Linked DNA regions of Homo sapiens: region 2 is linked to region 1. Evidence: fine-mapped expression QTL. A gene starts in region 1. The other region holds a variant in brackets. All regions are shown on one strand. Distances are from middle to middle. Region 1 holds the start of MINCR (MYC-induced long non-coding RNA). Region 2 has its middle 14 kb from the start of GPIHBP1.

Region 1 (8,450 bases):
CCGAGGTGCTGGCTCTACTAGGGGATTCATCTGGTGCCGTCACTGATCGTGTGACCTCGAGCAAGCCACGAGTCACCTCGGAGCCTCCGGGTTCTTCTCTGGAAAACGGGCTTGCTGGGGGCTGATGACATCAGATGCGCGCTGCGCAGGCCCCCGCAGACACCGCCAAAAAGCGGGGACGGTAGCCTTCGTCTTCAACAGGACAGTGATCTCACAGGCCCACCACGGGCACACCTGGGGGCCAGGCCGGGGGTTCTGGAGGAGTCACAGCAGGAGGGCAGGTGAGACCTGGAGAGGGCGACCCCGGCGCCCGGGTTGGACTCCCGCCCGCTGCGACCGGAGAGGGGAGCCCGGCGGTCCTCCACGCCGTCCCAGATAGTCCCGGAAGTGGCCGCAGCTCCTGGAGGGGCGGGGAGGGGGCGGGGCCATGCGCACTCGCGGCAGCCCGCACGAGACTCCCGCAGCGGCAGCTGACGGGAGGCTTCCCGGAGAAGGAAGTGGGGTGCGGCGGGTCCTGGGCCAGGCAGGGCTGTTCCTCCGCGCCGGGTCCTAAACTCTCTGCAAGGTCTCTGTGTCCTCCCTCGTTGGGCAGGGCCCGCGAGATGCGCTGAAATGGCATTTACGTCTTTCCCAGTGTCCTCAGTGCCTTCTCCAAGCCCGCGGGCACGGGGCTGATTCTCGAACGTGCCATCTGATCCACTCAACATTTCTCGGGAACCCCAGAGCGGCCCGGCAGGACCCAGGCGTGGACTTTTAAGGGCATTTTTCTACCTTGTGGTGGCTGCCGGGTTTATCAGCGTGCAGTTGAACCGGACGTGATATTCCTGAGCCCTCCCGGGACGCCTGCGACCCTGAGCTGTGCTCGGCCTCTTGGTCACGCCTCTCCCCATCCTCCTTCGATTTGCGTCACACGAGGGCCGCTTGTCCGGGTGGCCGCCCCCGGGGCTGGCTCGGAGCCCCGTCCCACCCCTGCCGGCTCTGCCCCATCCCCCGCCACCAGAGGAACCTGGACGCAGACCACCTGGAGCATCTCCAGCTCAACGGCCAATCTCCAACCCACACCACCTCCAAGCCCACACCACCACCCCTCTCCCTCCTCCGACCCAGGACCCCGATTCTCAGCCTTCGCCCTCTCTCTCCTCCCCGAAGTGACCAGGGATCTTCCTAAAGATCCCATGGTATCTGGGAGCCAAGGTTTGGGATCTGCCAGCCCTGATTCCATAACCCACACTTATCCTTCCTCACGGAGCCTGTTTCTGCCTCTGACAATGGTGGTTAGCGCAGCCCGCTCCGCACCGCACATGGCGGCTGCAAGGACGGCATGGGTGGGGTTCTTTGCACAGTGCCAGGTACATAGCAAATCCCCACAAAAAGAGCTCCTGGAAGGGCTCTGTCAACAGCGTGAGTGGACAGTCTCAGCAGAGGACCACCTGAGGCTTGGGTTGGTCACAGCAAATGTGAGAGACCAGGAAAAGGGGTGCATGTGAGTTCTGGAACCCAGAAAGTGATCATCTGTATCTGGCACAGTATCTGCTTTTGAGCCCAGAAGGAAATAAAGGCCCTGGAGGGGCGCTGAACCCTAAAGCACTGGAGCTGCAGGGAGAGGTCTTCTGAGGCAGCTTCTGGCAGCCCCAGACAAGGGGAGGGCCAAGTGCTGACCTAACCATGGCCTTGGGGGCAGGTGTGCAGGCCTATGGATTAGCAAATAAGGACCGAAACATGCTTATGGATTAGCAATTAAGGACCAAAACATGCCTATGGATTAGCAATTAAGGACCAAAATGAGCTTAAGTTTGGACCCTTTTCAGTTCACAAGCGTTTTTATTTTTACATACATATATGTAGCATGGTGTATTGGCTAAGAAAATCGACCTTGGAATTTCAAGCCCAACTCTACAGTTAACTGTGAGGTTGGATGAGTTATTAATGTCTCTGAATCTATTTCCTGATTAGTAAATGATGTATTATGGTTCTCCAGAGAAACAGAACCAATGATGTGGGGTGGGGGAGGACAAGAGAAAGAGGGTTATTATCAGGAATGCACTCACAGGGTTATGGGGGCTGGGCAGTCCCAAGACCTGCAGCTGTCAAGCAGAAGAGCTGATTGAAAGCCAGTAGACTTGAGACCCACAAAGAGCTGATGTCTCCATTCAAGTCTGAAGGCAAGAAAAGACGTAGGTCCCGGTTCAGTCAGGCAGGAGGTGGTTCCTATGCGGGCCTTGAACTAATTGAATGAGGCCCACCCACATTATGAAGGGCACTCTGCTTCACTCAGTTCACAAATTCAAATGTTAATTTTATCCAAAAACACCCCCACAGACACACTCAGCACACACAGTGTCACTACTTACTCTCAGATTGCTCTCCAGACTGGGGGAACCAATTGACAAGGCCCCCAGCTCCCCCAGCTATGAGACTACATTCCCCATAACTTTTCAGCATGTTCACTTGATTCTCCAACCTTAACAGACTTGTGATATTACTTTAATGGCAAACAAGGCTCTGCTGTCCCACGCGCTTACTTTGCCACATGGCACAGTATCTGTGTCACAGACGCACTCTTCCCAAGGACAGGTCCAGGCCTGTGTCAGTCACTGCTTCATCCCAGCACCTAGCACAGGGCCTGACTCATGGTGAGCTGTGGACAAACGCACATGCAATTAACGACTTGTTCCTGCCTCAGGGTTCTCTTTTCCAGATGAGTAGAACAATTCACATTTTTTCACTCCTTACTTCAGACTGGGAGAAAGGGCCTGAGCAGAAGGATCAGAGTTCAAAGGAGGGGACACAGCGCCACAGAGGCAATGCCTGGAGCAACAAAGATTGGGGTTTGGGCATGTACTGGAGTGAGAGTGGAAAGGGCATGGAAGTCAGGGTCCAGTCAGAAGACAGAGGCCTCGTCAGTTATTTCAACAGAGAGGATTTCGCATCATGAATCACTATGTACGAAGTGACTACCGAAGGAGCTGAAAAGAGAACTCTATCTCAGAAGCAAAAACTGCAGGGAGCACCTGCTACGCTAGGGCTGTGGAAACAAAGGGAAGCGTTTGGAATTACTGGGGTCAGAAAGCCTGGGAACTAAACCCCTAAGGAGAGGGCTTCGCAGGTCTCTGGTCCCTGACCTGGCCCCGAGGGTGGGGACAGATCCCCGAGGCGAGGCGTCGATGGCTGCGGTCTGAGGTCTCTAGCGGGGGGCCGATGAAGCTCTTCTGCGAAGTTGGGAACCCGCGCACCAGTTTTAGCAGCCGCGGAAGGAAGTGCTCTTGCCGGGGCGAAGCAGCAGAGTTCGGAAGACACGCGACCAGGGCACCAAACAGACCGGAAGCCTGAGGAAAAAACCGGAAGCAAACCGGAAAGAGTGTGCCCCTCTCTCCTCCGCAGCCTCGCGCGCTTTCTCTGGCGCCCCTAGTGGGAAAGCCTAGCATGGCACCAGCTGGCCAAGCAGAAAAAGGTTTGCGGAGACCGGGCCAGCCGCAGAGGTGGAGCTGAGGGTCAAAACCTCCTCCCTGGAGCAGGAGGGCAGAGAGGCCTTCCTTGTACGTTCGAGCGGATTCATAAGATAAATGGTGAAGGACTCAGATGGCTGAGATGAGATTTTGTAGAAAAACCTCGCCGAGTGCCAAGTGCAGCTAGGGCTTCAGGAGTCCAGCCTGGTTTGTAAGCCTCGAGGAGCCCACGCGTGGCCGCAGGTGCAAATGGTCTCAGAGCAGCCATGCACGGGAGAATTCCTCCCAGGGAGAAACGCCGTGAATGTGACTTCTAGGGACACGCACAGCCGGTGGAAACCGTATGCATGTAGTGTGCATAGGTGAGATGTAATGGAACACTGGAGAAGCACCTTGTGAACGTGGGAAGGGTTTCGCGCATGCTCAGGCTCCGTTCGGGATCAGAACATTCCCGCAGGAGAGAAGCCAATGAGCAGCACTGGACGTGGCCACACCTTCGTGGAAGCGCTGGTCCTCAGGCATCAGAGTGGACATAGAGAGGCCCTGCAAATGTAATGACTGTGGGAACGCCCGCCTCCTGAGTTCATGCTGCCGTGAGGGAGCGGACTGTGGGTGCGGGCATGCGGAAAGGTCTCAGATAATCCCCACTGGAGAGGAACACTGTGGATGTCATCCACGCAGCAGAATCGGATAAATTGCACCAAGGGACCCCACCCCCACCCCCTGTGCAGTGACCACCGCAAAACCTTTAAGCAAAGATCTCATGCCCCGAAATGCCAGGGCCGTCACCAGGGATGCAGCAGGGAGTGAAACACCCATCTCTTTTCTCACACCAAACCGTAGCCAAGGGATTCACCACGAGGTGAGCCGGTGCGAGAGGGAGGACTCTGCAGGCGGAGACTGCCCTCGGGGTTGTGGCCTCAGAACGGGGTCCTGCTCCCTGGAGACATGGACCCTGTTTCTTACAGTAGCTTTTGTGCATCATGGGCAGGCAGTGCCAGTTGACACCAATCAAGTCTCAACACTCAGCCTGCACACGTGCAGATCCTCTGGAAAAACGCAGCCCCTCCCATCCTCAGATCCTAAGAGAGGTAGGGGCCTTGCCCATTAGCTGACTCCAAGACAACCTGGCTGGGACTAGAAGGTGAGAGCCAACCCCTGCGGCTGCTACAAGCCCCACAGGAGGCCCGGGGAGGGTTTCCTGGCAGTGTCTTCCGAGTCGCCGCAAGTTTCTGCCCAGTTTTCACAGCCTGCTCTTCCCTGGGTTCCGGCTGGGTCTCTTCCTCAGGTATGGCTCCACGCCTCCCCTGCCCAGTTGATGCAGGTCTCGCTCTGATCACATCCAGTTCCTGTAGACCATTGGCCACTCACCAGGCCGCTTTGCCTTGCGTTTTCTAGGGTCTTGTTTCATGGGGTCATGGGAACCCACTCAGGGACCACCCAACTACCTGAGAGGCCCACTGGAAAACGCAGATTCCCAGGCCCCACCCCAAGGGATTCAGCAGGCCTCAGGGGAAGCCAGGAAATCTGGATTTAGTTCAAATACCCAAATACATTGATCATGGGCCTGGTTCGGGAATCTGTTCTCCTCCAAGCCCTCAAAGCAGGAGCTGCTGGCCTGCCCTCTGCAAGGCCGCTGCCCAGGCTCTCCTCAGACACCACCTGGACGGGCAGCTCGAGCCGTGGGACGCCCCTGCTTGGGCCAGAATCGGGTCCTGCACCTCAGACCTGCAGGGCCCAGCTCGGCCTCTGGGCCTCTGGCAGCCGCGCCCTGCCTGGCACCCCCTGCCTCCGTGACGCCCCATCTCTCTCTCTACAACGTAGCCCCGTGCTAGTTCACAGCCTCGCGACCCCTCCCAGAGAGGCCCCACAGCCATGGCCCCCAGCCGCGCGAGCAACGCCAGGCACTCGCCCGGCCCTGGCCCGCCACCCTTGGGTTCGCCTGGGGTCCCCCGCCAGTCTTCCGAACGGGTCCTCCGAGCTGCCTAGAGCGCCCGGAAATGCCCTCGGCATGGGGCGGGGCTTGCGGGGGCGGGGCCGCGCTGCCGACTCGGGCTGGGCTTGGCTCACTGGGCCTAGGCAGTGCCTCAAGCGTGGGATACCCTGGTCAAGTCTTTAAAGATCACAGGTTTTAAACAGATTTCTTTTTACCCAATAGCATTTATTCATACTCTTTAAAGAAATTTGGGAAGTGTAGGAAAAATAGAAGAGACAGAAATTTTCTCCTCAGCACTACGGGCTAAGTATCCCAAATCCAAACACCCCCAATTCAAAACTTTTGAGCAGCTGACATGCCGCACAAAAGGAAATACTCACTGGAACACTTCAGATTTCGGATGTGGGAATTTGGGAGGCTCACCTGCTAACTATGGTACAAATATTCCCCAAAAAAAGCCAAAGCTTTTTTTTTTGAGACAGAGTCTCGCTCTGTCGCCCAGGCTGGAGTGCAGTGGCACGATCTTGACTCACTGCAAGCTCCGCCTCCCGGGTTCACGCCATTCTACTGCCTCAGCCTCCAGAGTAGCTGGGACTACAGGCGCCCGCCACCGCGCCCAGCTAATTTTTTTTTTTTTTTTTTAGTAGACACGGGTCTTCACCGTGTTAGCCAGGATGGTCTCGATCCCCTGACCTCGTGATCCGCCCGCCTCGGCCTCCCAAAGTGCTGGGATTACAGGCGTGAGCCACTGTTCCCGGCCGCCAAAACACTTCTGGTCCCAAGCATTTTGGATAAGGGATACTCAGGCTGTACAAGGAATGTCTGTGCACGTTTTTAGCAGCTCTTGCTGTTACACTAAATAGACTTCATGGTTAGCTTGTCCCTAAAATAACCTTCACGTCCTGAGGTCTGAGATCTGCTGGGAGCAGTGCTGGAAGCCCTATTCCCCCACAGCGAGAGGGGCGCCAGCATCCCTCATTTACGGGAGGAAATCGAGACTTGGTGAGGACGTCCCACAGCCCGGATTTGAACCCAGGCTTGGATCCGAGGCCCACGTGCTTGCTCCACAATGCCCCCTGCTGGCCACCCTCCCTGCCCTCAAAGATTGCTGTAACCAGAAGTGGACGAGCATTTCGGGGAGGAATGCTCCCCGCACAAGCCGAGGGGTCTCCCAGACTCCACTTTGGTGTCCCTGGAGTGCCCATGCCAGCGACCTTTTGGTGGGTCTTTTACCCCAGATGGAACTGTCGCCAAGTGTGTCCCCATCGTGGGGAGAGGAAGTGGATCAGCAGCGTCAGGCCTTGCGGAGGTGCACTCGCACCCTCCTGCGCTACGGTCTCAGAGGCAGGAGGACGCTTTCAGGGAGCCAGCCGCTGTGGCACCTGCAGCAGTTTCAGCAGTTGGGCAGCTCCAGCCGCCCTGCCACACCCTCACTCCTCATCCACTCCAAAATTCAACGCAGCATGCCGAGCCCCAGGTACGTTGAGGCGGAAAGCTATGGTCCCCGCCCGGAGGAGCCATGCAGTTCCCCGCAGCGTGGGTGGAGGAGGAGGGACAGGTGTCCCAGTCCTTGAGTCTCAGGTGGGCAAAATCATGCCACTACTGTGGCACTCGTGTGCCTGACTCCAGGCAGGGCCTTCCCGTCCTGCCGCCCTGCACTCTGTGCATGGCCATTCTGTGAGGCTGCTGCTCCTCAAGCAGCCCGTGGGATGGGAAATCCCCTCGTTTACACGGTAGACCATCCAGCCCAGCGCCTGCTGCAGAGCCTGGGTGAACAGCGTCTGGGTGACGAGAGTAACAGGCAGGATGCAAGTGGGAGCAGGCGGCTTCCCAGGACCTCGGTCCATGTGCCCATCCAGCAGGACCCTGAGCCCAGCTCCCATCTGGGGAGAGGGCTCCACGGGGGCAGGCAAGAGGGGCTGCATGCTGAGCTCCTGAAAGCTCTAGAATGCCCTCTGTAGCCATTACACTCGACGGAGGGCATGGCGAATAGCAAGGGCTTGGGGCATGTGGTTGGGTTTTAGGTTTTTCCTTGCAGGACTGTGCTGAGCCTGCACCACTGGGAAGCCCTTGGCCTCTGCCCTTTCTCTGAAACGCTCCTCTTCTGCCTGGATGCCTTGGTCATTCTTTCCTCATCCATAACCTTGAATAGCTTCACCAAGATCCGTGCTGGTGTCAATATTTTATATTAAGTTTTCCTGGGATATGGTGTTCTTGATTTTTTTGAATTAGGGTATAATTTACATAGCGAAAATGCCCAAATTTTAAGCACTCGGCTTGACTGTTTACATGTTTACACTCTTGCTAATCCCCCCAGGTCACAGCATGGAACTTTCCAGAGCTTCTCCTCCCTTTCCCTTCCCCTCCCCCAGCTGATGGGTATTCTAGCTTCTGGAGGGCCCTGTCTGCCATCGGGCCTCTCAGGAATGGATTCGTCTGCCCGCCCTCCTGGCACTCCTTTTGCTCCACACGATGTGCTAGAGGTCACTCCGGGTGGTTCTGTGTGTCTGTTGGCCCCGTCCGCGCCGGCGTGTGGTTTCCCATTCTGAGTGTTTGCTCTGACCCCATTTTTATTGCTGGGGTTGTGTGCTTCTCAAGCCCTTTTCCAATCCCAAACCTGTGGTGTCTTTTCTGAGTTAGAACACCCTAGTGGCTACAAGGACCCCAGAGTAGGAAGCCCAGCATCCGTGCGACAAGGCTGGGTTCCCTGAGAGCCAAGCGGCCTCCCCACCTCAGCGCCCTCCCCAAACTCCTGCCCACACTTCAGGACCCGCTGGCAGTGCTGCTTGAGTCACTGCTCCCTGCTCTCTGCTTCTAATGAGGCCTCCACGCGCTGCTTTCTGGCACCTGGCAGGCGGTGCCTGCTGTGCCTGTGTTTCTCCCTTCTCTTTCGCGAGCTCCCAGGGCAGCCCCCGTGGTGCTCTGTCCACCTTCGGGGGTGTCCCTGGTGCCCAGCGCAGCAGGAGTGAATGTCCTGAGCCTGAGCCAGTTCTCCTTGACTGCACAGCACCAAGGTGCCAGTCAGTGCTGGTCAGGCTGGCCGCTAGGTCTTGGTGCACCCGCCACTT
Region 2 (8,450 bases), 55 kb before region 1:
CTTTCTCCCCAGTTTCAAGCCATAGCTCTGGAGATAAACTTTACAGCCTCGGAATGTGCTGTGACCTCCGCTCTCTTTTCCTGTTCTGTGCTCCAGGCCTCATGCACACTTATTTACGTGGAAGGTTGTTAGGCGCGCACTATGCTCACCAATCTGGTCATCTGTTTCCTTAAAACCTTCAAGGGTCAGATCCTGACACAGACCAGACACCTCTGGAATTCTCTCTCCAGCAAAAGGTTACTTCAAGGCAGGAACCCACTCCCGTCTAGAGACTGACAACAAGATTGACAACAATTAGTTTATAACCTGGTAGAAGCCACGCTGGCCCCTGCACCAGAAGGAACAACAATTCAAGACAAGCCACGGGAGTGGGTCATGCACCTGGCACCTCCTCACCCCCCAGCCTTTTCTGCAAACCCTCTCTTTAAAATCCCCTGCGTGGCAGGGTGCGGTGGCTCACGCCTATAATCCCAGCACTTTGGGAGGCCGAGGCAGGTGGATCATCTGAGGTCAGGCGTTCAAGATCAGCCTGACCAACATGGTGAAACCTCATCTCTACTAAAAATGCAAAAATTAGCTGGGCATGGTGGCGAACGCCTGTAATCCCAACTACCTGGGAGGCTGAGGCAGGAGAATCGCTTGAACCTGGGAGGCGGAGGTTGCAGTGAGCCGAGATGAATCACTGCACTCCAGCCTGGGCCACAAAAGCAAAAGCCTGTCTCAAAAAACAGAAAAAGAAAATCCCCCTGCGTTCCCTCCACAAATGGAAGAGTGGAATTGCTTTCTGCTACGACGGATAATAAAGTCTCATTCTCCATCACACCTCGTTACTATTTTGGCTTCCTTCTACAAGCCACGGGTGGCCAGACCCTTCTGCCCATTACATTATCTTGTAGATGAAGCCTCCAGGTAATTCTTGTAGAAAACTTAGAAAGTAATGACAATGACCTACACACCACCAACCAACTGATTTATGCCAGGTTTTTTTCCTTGTCCATGTTTTGGAGTCTTTTATCTAGTTTATCGAATGACTGTTTCATTCTGGACAAACTCCGCGCACAGCTTTGTCTCCTGCGTTTTTGCTGGGATCAGGTCATGGCCATCTGGAGCAGCGTGCATTTCAGCAGCTTGGATGGTCTGTGACGGAAACCAGCTAGGGGCCTTTCAAACCTCAGTGGCGCTGGCACTTATCACTAGTAACAGTCTTTATTTCTGCTCTGTAGAAGGAGCTTGGCTTTGATATCCTTGAGGTCGGTGGAGTGACGTGAGGAAGCACTGCCGTTGTGGTAAGCCCCCTGAGAAGGGAGATGGTTCCTCGCCACCGGCCTCAGCCTCCCCAGCTGTACAGGGTACGGTGATGTCCTGCAGAGATTTTAACAGATCTTGGGACCCCCTCTTGCTGCCTCAGTGTCATTTCCCACCAGCCCTGGACTGTCCCCTCCAGAATCTCTAAGTCCAGGTGACAGCAAGGTGCACACTGCTTCTTGTCACCCTCCTGGCCACACTGGCTCACTTACACTCAAGAACAGCCTCACAGAGGGAAAGAAACTCATGCAGCAACCCTGCCGGTTACAAGTTAGTGTTTTTTTTTTCTTTTTTTTCTTTTTCTTTTTTTTTTTTTGAGACGGAGTCTCTCTCTGTTACGCAGGCTGAGTGCAGTGGCGTGACCTCGGGTCACTGCAACCTCTGCCTTCTGGGTTCAAGCAAGTCTCCTGCCTCAGCCTCCCGAGTAGCTGGGACTACAGGCGTGCACCAACACGCCGGGCTAATTTTTGTTTTTTTGTTTTTTGGTAGAGTTGGGGTTTTACCCTGTTGGCCAGGCTGGTCTCGAACTCCTGACCTCAGGTGATCCTCCTGTCTCACCTCCCAAAGTGCTGGGATTACAGGCATGAGCGACCAGGCTCAGTCCTTTTTTTTTTTTTTTTTTTTTTTAACAAATTGTTGTTTTCAACATGTGCTTTTGCATAGGCAGAGAAAACTGTCTGGAAGCGGGAGCAAACTCCTGGGAATTGCTTTCAGAGACAGCAGTGGGGAGGGCGCTGCTTCTCACTTGAGGTACTGCTCTTTCATTTGGATCTTCTCGGCAGGCATGCTAATTCTGTAATGAAGAGTCAATGTCAATAAAAGAAAAGATGTATGTGGCTGAATCCCCACAGCAACTAGGCCCCTGCTCTCCTGTCTGGGGCTTGCAGGAGGCCTCCAGGGAGGTGACGCTCCACTGAGCACTGAAGTCAGGGAAAGAAGGGCGGGAAGGCAGCGCAGAAGCAACTGGGAAGGGGTGGGGCTTCCAGGAGAGACTGGGAGCCCCCCGCAGCCCAGCAGGCCTTGGGGTGCTGGGCAGGGTGCTCCATGCTGGACCAAGGTGAGTGGGCGCCCAGGTCCGGGATCTGGGATGTCAGCCGCAGGAGCAAGGAGGTGGTGGTAGGAGACAGCATGGCCCTGAGGGAGGCCCCCCTTGCCCCCAGCTTCCCCTACTGCGGTGCCCGTGAGTCATTCCCGGGTTCATTCCACAAACCTTCCCAGAACTCTGTGCCAGGCACTATGTGGGAAGTGGGGCTGGGGCTGGGGGAGACGCATCTTAGTGAGAACATCCCAGACCCCACAAAGCCCAGGCTGGTAAACACAGGCACAAGCGGAGACAGCCGTGTGGTACAGGGAGGCCTGCCTGGAGGAGGGGGTGCCCAGCTGCCTGGCCCCCTGCATCCTGCGCCTCCCCACATGCAGTTGGTCCCCCTGAAGTCCCTCCTGGGTGCTTTGGGAATATGTATGAAGGGCCCCGAGGGCCTTTCCATACTCCAGCCCCACCTCTGCCCTGGACTTCTCTCCCCAGCCCAAGCCCCATGCTTTAGACCTTCCTGACCCAAAAGCCCCTCCTGTTCTGAATGAGGAAACTGAGGCCCAGGCAGAGGAAAGGACTCAGCTTTTTGTTTTCACAAAGGTTGCACAAGTGATGCAACTTTCCTCACAACACGACGTGGGGGCCCCCAACTTGCAGGCCAGTGCCCCGCCCCGCAGCACGCTCCTGCCCCATCGTTGTATGGACTTAGCACCCCTCACCTTGGCTCCCCCGTCCCAGGCCCAGGCTGGGTCTTTGTGACGGTCTCATGCAATCCCACACAACTTGTGAGGTTGCTGTTGCACTCCATTCTGCAAAATGCGGAGGCTGTGAGGAGACCTGTTGGAGCCAGGATTCAAGGAGCTTTCTCGGCTCCGGAGCACAGGGCTGCCTCTCCCAGGGTTTTCCAAATTCTGGGCTCTGCCTGCTTCCTCTGTCCTCCAGTGAGCATCCTGACTGCCCTGCCCTCTCCATCCTTCTCTGACCCCCAGGCTCCTTCTGTCCTGCACCCATCAGCTCACAGTTTTATGTTGCTGCCGCCTGGGGTCCTGCCCAGTGTCCCAGTTGGTGGGAAGCTCCTGAAGGGCAGGCCGGTGCAGGCACAGCTCTCTGAAGAAGGTTCTGAAGTTGTTGTTAAGACTGCAGTGGCCGGGCGTGGTGGCTCACACGTGTAATCCCAGCACTTTGAGAGGCCAAGGCAGGAGGACCACTTGAGCCTGGGAGTTCCAGACCAGCCTGGGCAACATAGTGAGACACCATTTCTACAAAATAAAAAAAAAAATTAGCCGAGCATAGTGGCGCAGGCCTGTAGTTCCAGCTACTCAGGAGGCTGAAGTGGGAGGATCGATTGAGCCCAGGAGGTTGAAGCTGCACTGAGTGAGGATTGCACCACTGCACTCCAGCCTGGGCAACAGACTGAGACCCTCTCAAAAAAATAAAATTAAATTAAATTAAAATTAAAAATAAATAAATAAAAGAAAGAGACAGAGACTGCAGTGAAAGAGAATCTGCAGAGAGGAAGGGGCTGTGTGTGACTTTGCATCCACAGGATTTTAATTTATGGAGGTGACTGTGCTGGCACAGAGAGGCCAGTGCCATGAGAGAAGTGCCGTCATGCCTGGGAGGATGTGAGGATGAGCGATATGACAGGAATGAGTGTGGGGTCAGCCCCAGGCCACCTAACAGCCAGGCCAGAGGTTGCCTGCTGGCACCTGGGCTCTGACCTTGTGTCTGAGCCCCACAAGACTCCAGGACCCTCTGCACCCCAGGCAAGACATGCCTACCCACTCGGTCTCCTTCAGAACCACGGACAGTGCCGGCGAGCACCACGCGCCACTGACCTGAGCTTCTAGTTAATTCCATATGGTGCCTCTGCCTCCTCCAGACTCAGCTGTCACCACGACCTGGCCAGCAGCAGGACCACCGGCACCCAGGTCTGACCTCAGGCTCCATCCCCTGCTGGACCCATGGGACCTGGCCCAGTGGCACCAGAATACCTGGGCCCCACCCCTGCCCTGGGCCCCACCCCTGCCCTGCGCTGCTGTTTCCTCAGCACTTGCTGTTTCCTCCCAGGCCACCTTCCCAGCAAACTCCCATTTATTTAT[C/T]TATTTATGAAACAGGGTCTCACTCTGTCACCCCAGCTAGAGTGCAGTGGTGCAATCATAGCTCACTGCAGCCTCACCCTCCTGGGCTCAAGCGATCCTCCCACCTCAGCCTCCTGAGTAGCTGGGCCCACAGGCATGTGCCACCATGCCTGGCTAATTTATTTATTTTTGGTAGAGATGGGGTCTCACTATGTTTCCCAGGCTCATCAGCAACTCCCGTGCTCAAACGATCCTCCCACCTCAGCCTCCCAAGTAGCTGGGATTACAGGCGTGAGCCACCACACCCGGCCTCCTTTGTCGTTTAAATCCAAATATCGCCTTGTTCTGCAGGCCTGACCACCTGGGTCCTCGTGGGCTGGGCTCCTCTCTGTACTCCCGTTCCATCATAACCTGCCTCCCCTTCCACAAGGAGCACTCAGGGCGCCAGGGGCTGCGGTGGGTTCCCTGCCCCTCTGGAGCGTAGCAGCCTGTGCCCAGTGTTGGTGCCTGCGGGAGAGGGAGGCGGGGGGGAGAGGGAGGCGGGGGGGAGAACAGGTTCAGATCCTGCTGCTTCCCTTTCTGTCCTGGTGGCCAAGGCTACCTGCACAGGTAGATGAGGAGGGCACTTCCTTTCCCAGTGGGCCCTGGGTGGGATCATGGAGGGAGCCCTCGAAGGCATCTGGAGCCCGGGGCGGGTGCTCAGTCGACATGCACCCCTTCTGTGGTCGGACCCTGCTCCTGGCTTCCTCCCAAGCCCCCGTGCCTCCTGTTCGCTGTTGCTCTGAGTGCCGTCCAGGCACAGGCCCCAGTCCTTGGTGACCTTCCAGGCCACGCCTCTCAGCCCCGACACCTGCAGGGGCTTGGGCCCGTCCAGAGAGCACCCCTCCCTGGAAACCTCCGGGGCCTGGAGCCTGGGGCAACGCCTCTGTGTGGGCCCCGAGGTGAGAAAGGGACCTGTGTGGCCTGGAGTGAGATCCCACTGGGACCGGAGTGTGGACCTGCTGCCTGCCAGCTGTGCCGTCTCAGGCTGGCCATTTAGCCGCTCTGTGTTCGGGTCTCTCGTCCACGACACTGGGAAAAACCAAGCCCATCTCACGGGACTGGTGTGGAGATTTTCTGACCTTCGGCCGCCACACCCTGGCATGTGCTGGGCGACCCCTGCCCTGCCTCATTGCAGTCTGTTTCCCAAGCCGGGTTCTGGTTCCTTGCTTGTCCCCACCCCCCACAGTGTTTCGGACCCTCCTCCGGCATGGGGTCTGCCCGAGGCCCGGCTTCTCACACACACCCCTGCCACACCTACGCACCCTTAATAGGGAGGGACCAGCAAACCCACGGGGACCGAGCCCCACCCCCAGCTGGCTCACCACCCACCCAGAACCCAGCCCTGGGGCCACCATCTGGCCCCTGTGACCCTGCACCGGCCCCTGTGACCCTGAACCGCCCCTGACCCAGGAGCAAGTGCAGTGAGAACACCCTGTTTCCTCCTGGCTCAGGGCGGCCGTGACCTGCAGCTGGAGTGAGGGGCACTTGGGCCTGGCTCCAGGGATAGAGGAGGGGGACCTGCCCAGCATGCTGACCCTGCTCGAGTCTGTTAGATGGGTCTGGGAGGGCCTGCCTCCCTCTTCCACACAGACCCTGAGGGCTCCTCCTCTCCAGCATGGCAGCCTCCAGACCGAGTGCGTCCCGTGCCCACGCCCCGTCCCCCGGGTCGCCTGTCCAGACCGAGTGCGTCCCGTGCCCACGCCCCGTCCCCCGGGTCGCCTGTCCAGACCGAGTGCGTCCCGTGCCCACGCCCCGTCCCCCGGGTCGCCTGTCCAGACCGAGTGCGTCCCGTGCCCACGCCCCGTCCCCTGGGTCGCGTGTCCAGACCGAGTGCGTCCCGTGCCCACGCACCATTTCCCGGGTCACCTGCTCAGACCAAGTATGTCCCAAGCCCGCGCCCATTCCCCGGGGTCACCTGCTCCTTCTCCACTCACCCAGAGGAAGGTGACAGAATGTGGGGATCTGCTTTAATCTGATATCTTCCTGGGGATTTCCTGTCCCCCAGGACAGGAAGCGGGCATCCACTGCTGGGCCTCCGGCTCCTTGTTCTAGTCTGTGGGAACTCGCTGGAGAAGGAGGCAGTGTCCCCAAAGCAGGAAATTCCTAAGGAAGGAACCTCTGCCTTCGGTCCCAGGCAGACCCTAGGGACGCTTTCCTGAGACCACTGAGGTCTGCAGAAGCTAATGGTCACCGGGATGGGTCAGCTCTGCAGGAAGCAGGGCGAGGCCACCGCTCCTGCACCCAGGTCCCTGACAGGAGATGCCCGTATTGGGACCTTTCCAGAGGAGAGAGGCGTCCCCAGCTCCTGTCATGGAAGCAGGTCATGCACCTTCAGGCTGGCCTCAGACCAGGGCACAGCCAAGGCTTCCTGCCCTCTAGGGTCTGCAGGTGGGAGGGGAAGGGGGTTCAGCTAGTTCCATGCTGGATACCGCGGGGTGCAGGGGCTTCCAGACATCAGGAGGTGGGAGCGCTGCCTGACACTCAGGCTTCCAGCAGCAGAGACCTCACGGGGGTGAGCCCTTTCACTGCCGCTTTGGTGGTGCAGGAAGCCTGGACCCAGCTCCCGGCTGGGGCATCCCATGAACAAGAGGAGGGTAGGAACCCAGCAGAGGACAACCTCCTCGACATAAAAACTTCTCCACAAAAGACCCAGGGAAGAGGAAGGAAAGACAAACTACAGACTGGGAGAAAATGTTTGCAAACTGCATAGCGGACAATGGACTGGAATCTACGATCTATTCACAACGTATCTCAAAATTCAACAGCACAAAAACAACCCACTTACAACATGGACAAACGACGTAAAGAGCTATTTCCCTGACGAGGACACGCAGAAGGCAAACGTGCACAGGAACAGATGTTCGACACCACGCACCCTCAGCGTTCCGACACTAGAACCACGGTGAGGCTGCAGCGATGGCTCACTCATGTCATCCCAGGACTTTGGGAGGCCGAGGGGGGTGTATCACTTGAGCCCCAAAGTTCAAGATCAGACTGGGCAACATAGCAAACCCTGTTTCTAAACAAACAAAAAATTCACGGTGAGATCTCATTATACACCTATCAGAACGGCTAAATAAAAAATAAACTGTTGCTGGATGCGGTGGCTCAAGCCTGTAATACCAGCACTTTGGGAGGCCAAAGCAGGAGGATCACTTGAGGTCAGGAGTTTGAGACCAGTCTGGCCAACATGGTGAAACCCTGTCTCTACTAAAAATATAAAAATCAGCCAGGTGTGGTTGTGCGCTCCTGTAATCCCAGCTACTCAGAAAGCTAAGGCAGAAGAATTGCTTGAACCCAGAAGGTGGATTATGCAGTGAGCCGAGATCACACCATTGCACTCCAGCCTGAGTGACAGAGAGACGCTCCATCTGAAAAAATAAAAATAAATCAAATAAATAAATAAATAAACCATGACCACCCCACATGTTGATGGGGAGGCAGAGAAGCTGGGTCACCTACCTGCTGCTGCTGGGAGTGGACGATGGAGCAGCCGCTCTGGAAGACAGCTTGGCTGTTTCTTATCAAACTAGACACGCAACTCCCACGACCCCCTGATGCGCCCCAGAGAAATGAAAGTCATGTTCATACAAAAACCTGCTCATGAGTGTTCACAGCAGCTTTACTTGTTTTAGGCAAAACCTGGGAAGCAGCCCAGATGTCCTTCAATGGCAAAGGGTTCAGCTGGTTCCATGGGCACCAGGGGAGACAGCCCAGCCACAGGAAGGCGGTGCCGCTGAATGGCATAGCCGCCAGGGGGAACTACAGAGACTCTCCGGAGTGAAAGTGGCCTCTCAACAGGCGGCCTCCAGGACAACTTCCTCTGCACAGCTCCCTGCAGCCACAATTCTGGAAATGGAGAGAACCAATGAGTGGCCACAGGGGCTCCCAGATGCCCCTCCCCACAGCGGAGGGTGTAATATTGCACCAAGTTATGCAAAATGATAGCCTTGGGTTGGGCACGGTAGCGCACGCCTGTAATCCCAGCA

What was found.
Region 2: its variant is fine-mapped to the expression of MINCR in esophagus muscle (GTEx, PIP 0.95).

The regions. Positions count from the first base shown.
Region 1 is chr8:143,278,360-143,286,809 of GRCh38, forward strand. MINCR (MYC-induced long non-coding RNA) reads right to left here and starts at 3,341. Exons shown (of 3, transcript NR_120682.1): 1 at 3,123-3,341; 2 at 2,523-2,638; 3 at 1,796-2,156. RefSeq lists enhancers at 1,182-1,824, 3,121-3,270.
Region 2 is chr8:143,223,447-143,231,896 of GRCh38, forward strand. No RefSeq gene overlaps it. Among named protein-coding and RNA genes, the nearest start is that of GPIHBP1, 14 kb to the left of the region's middle. The variant C/T (reference allele first, on the strand shown) is at 4,441.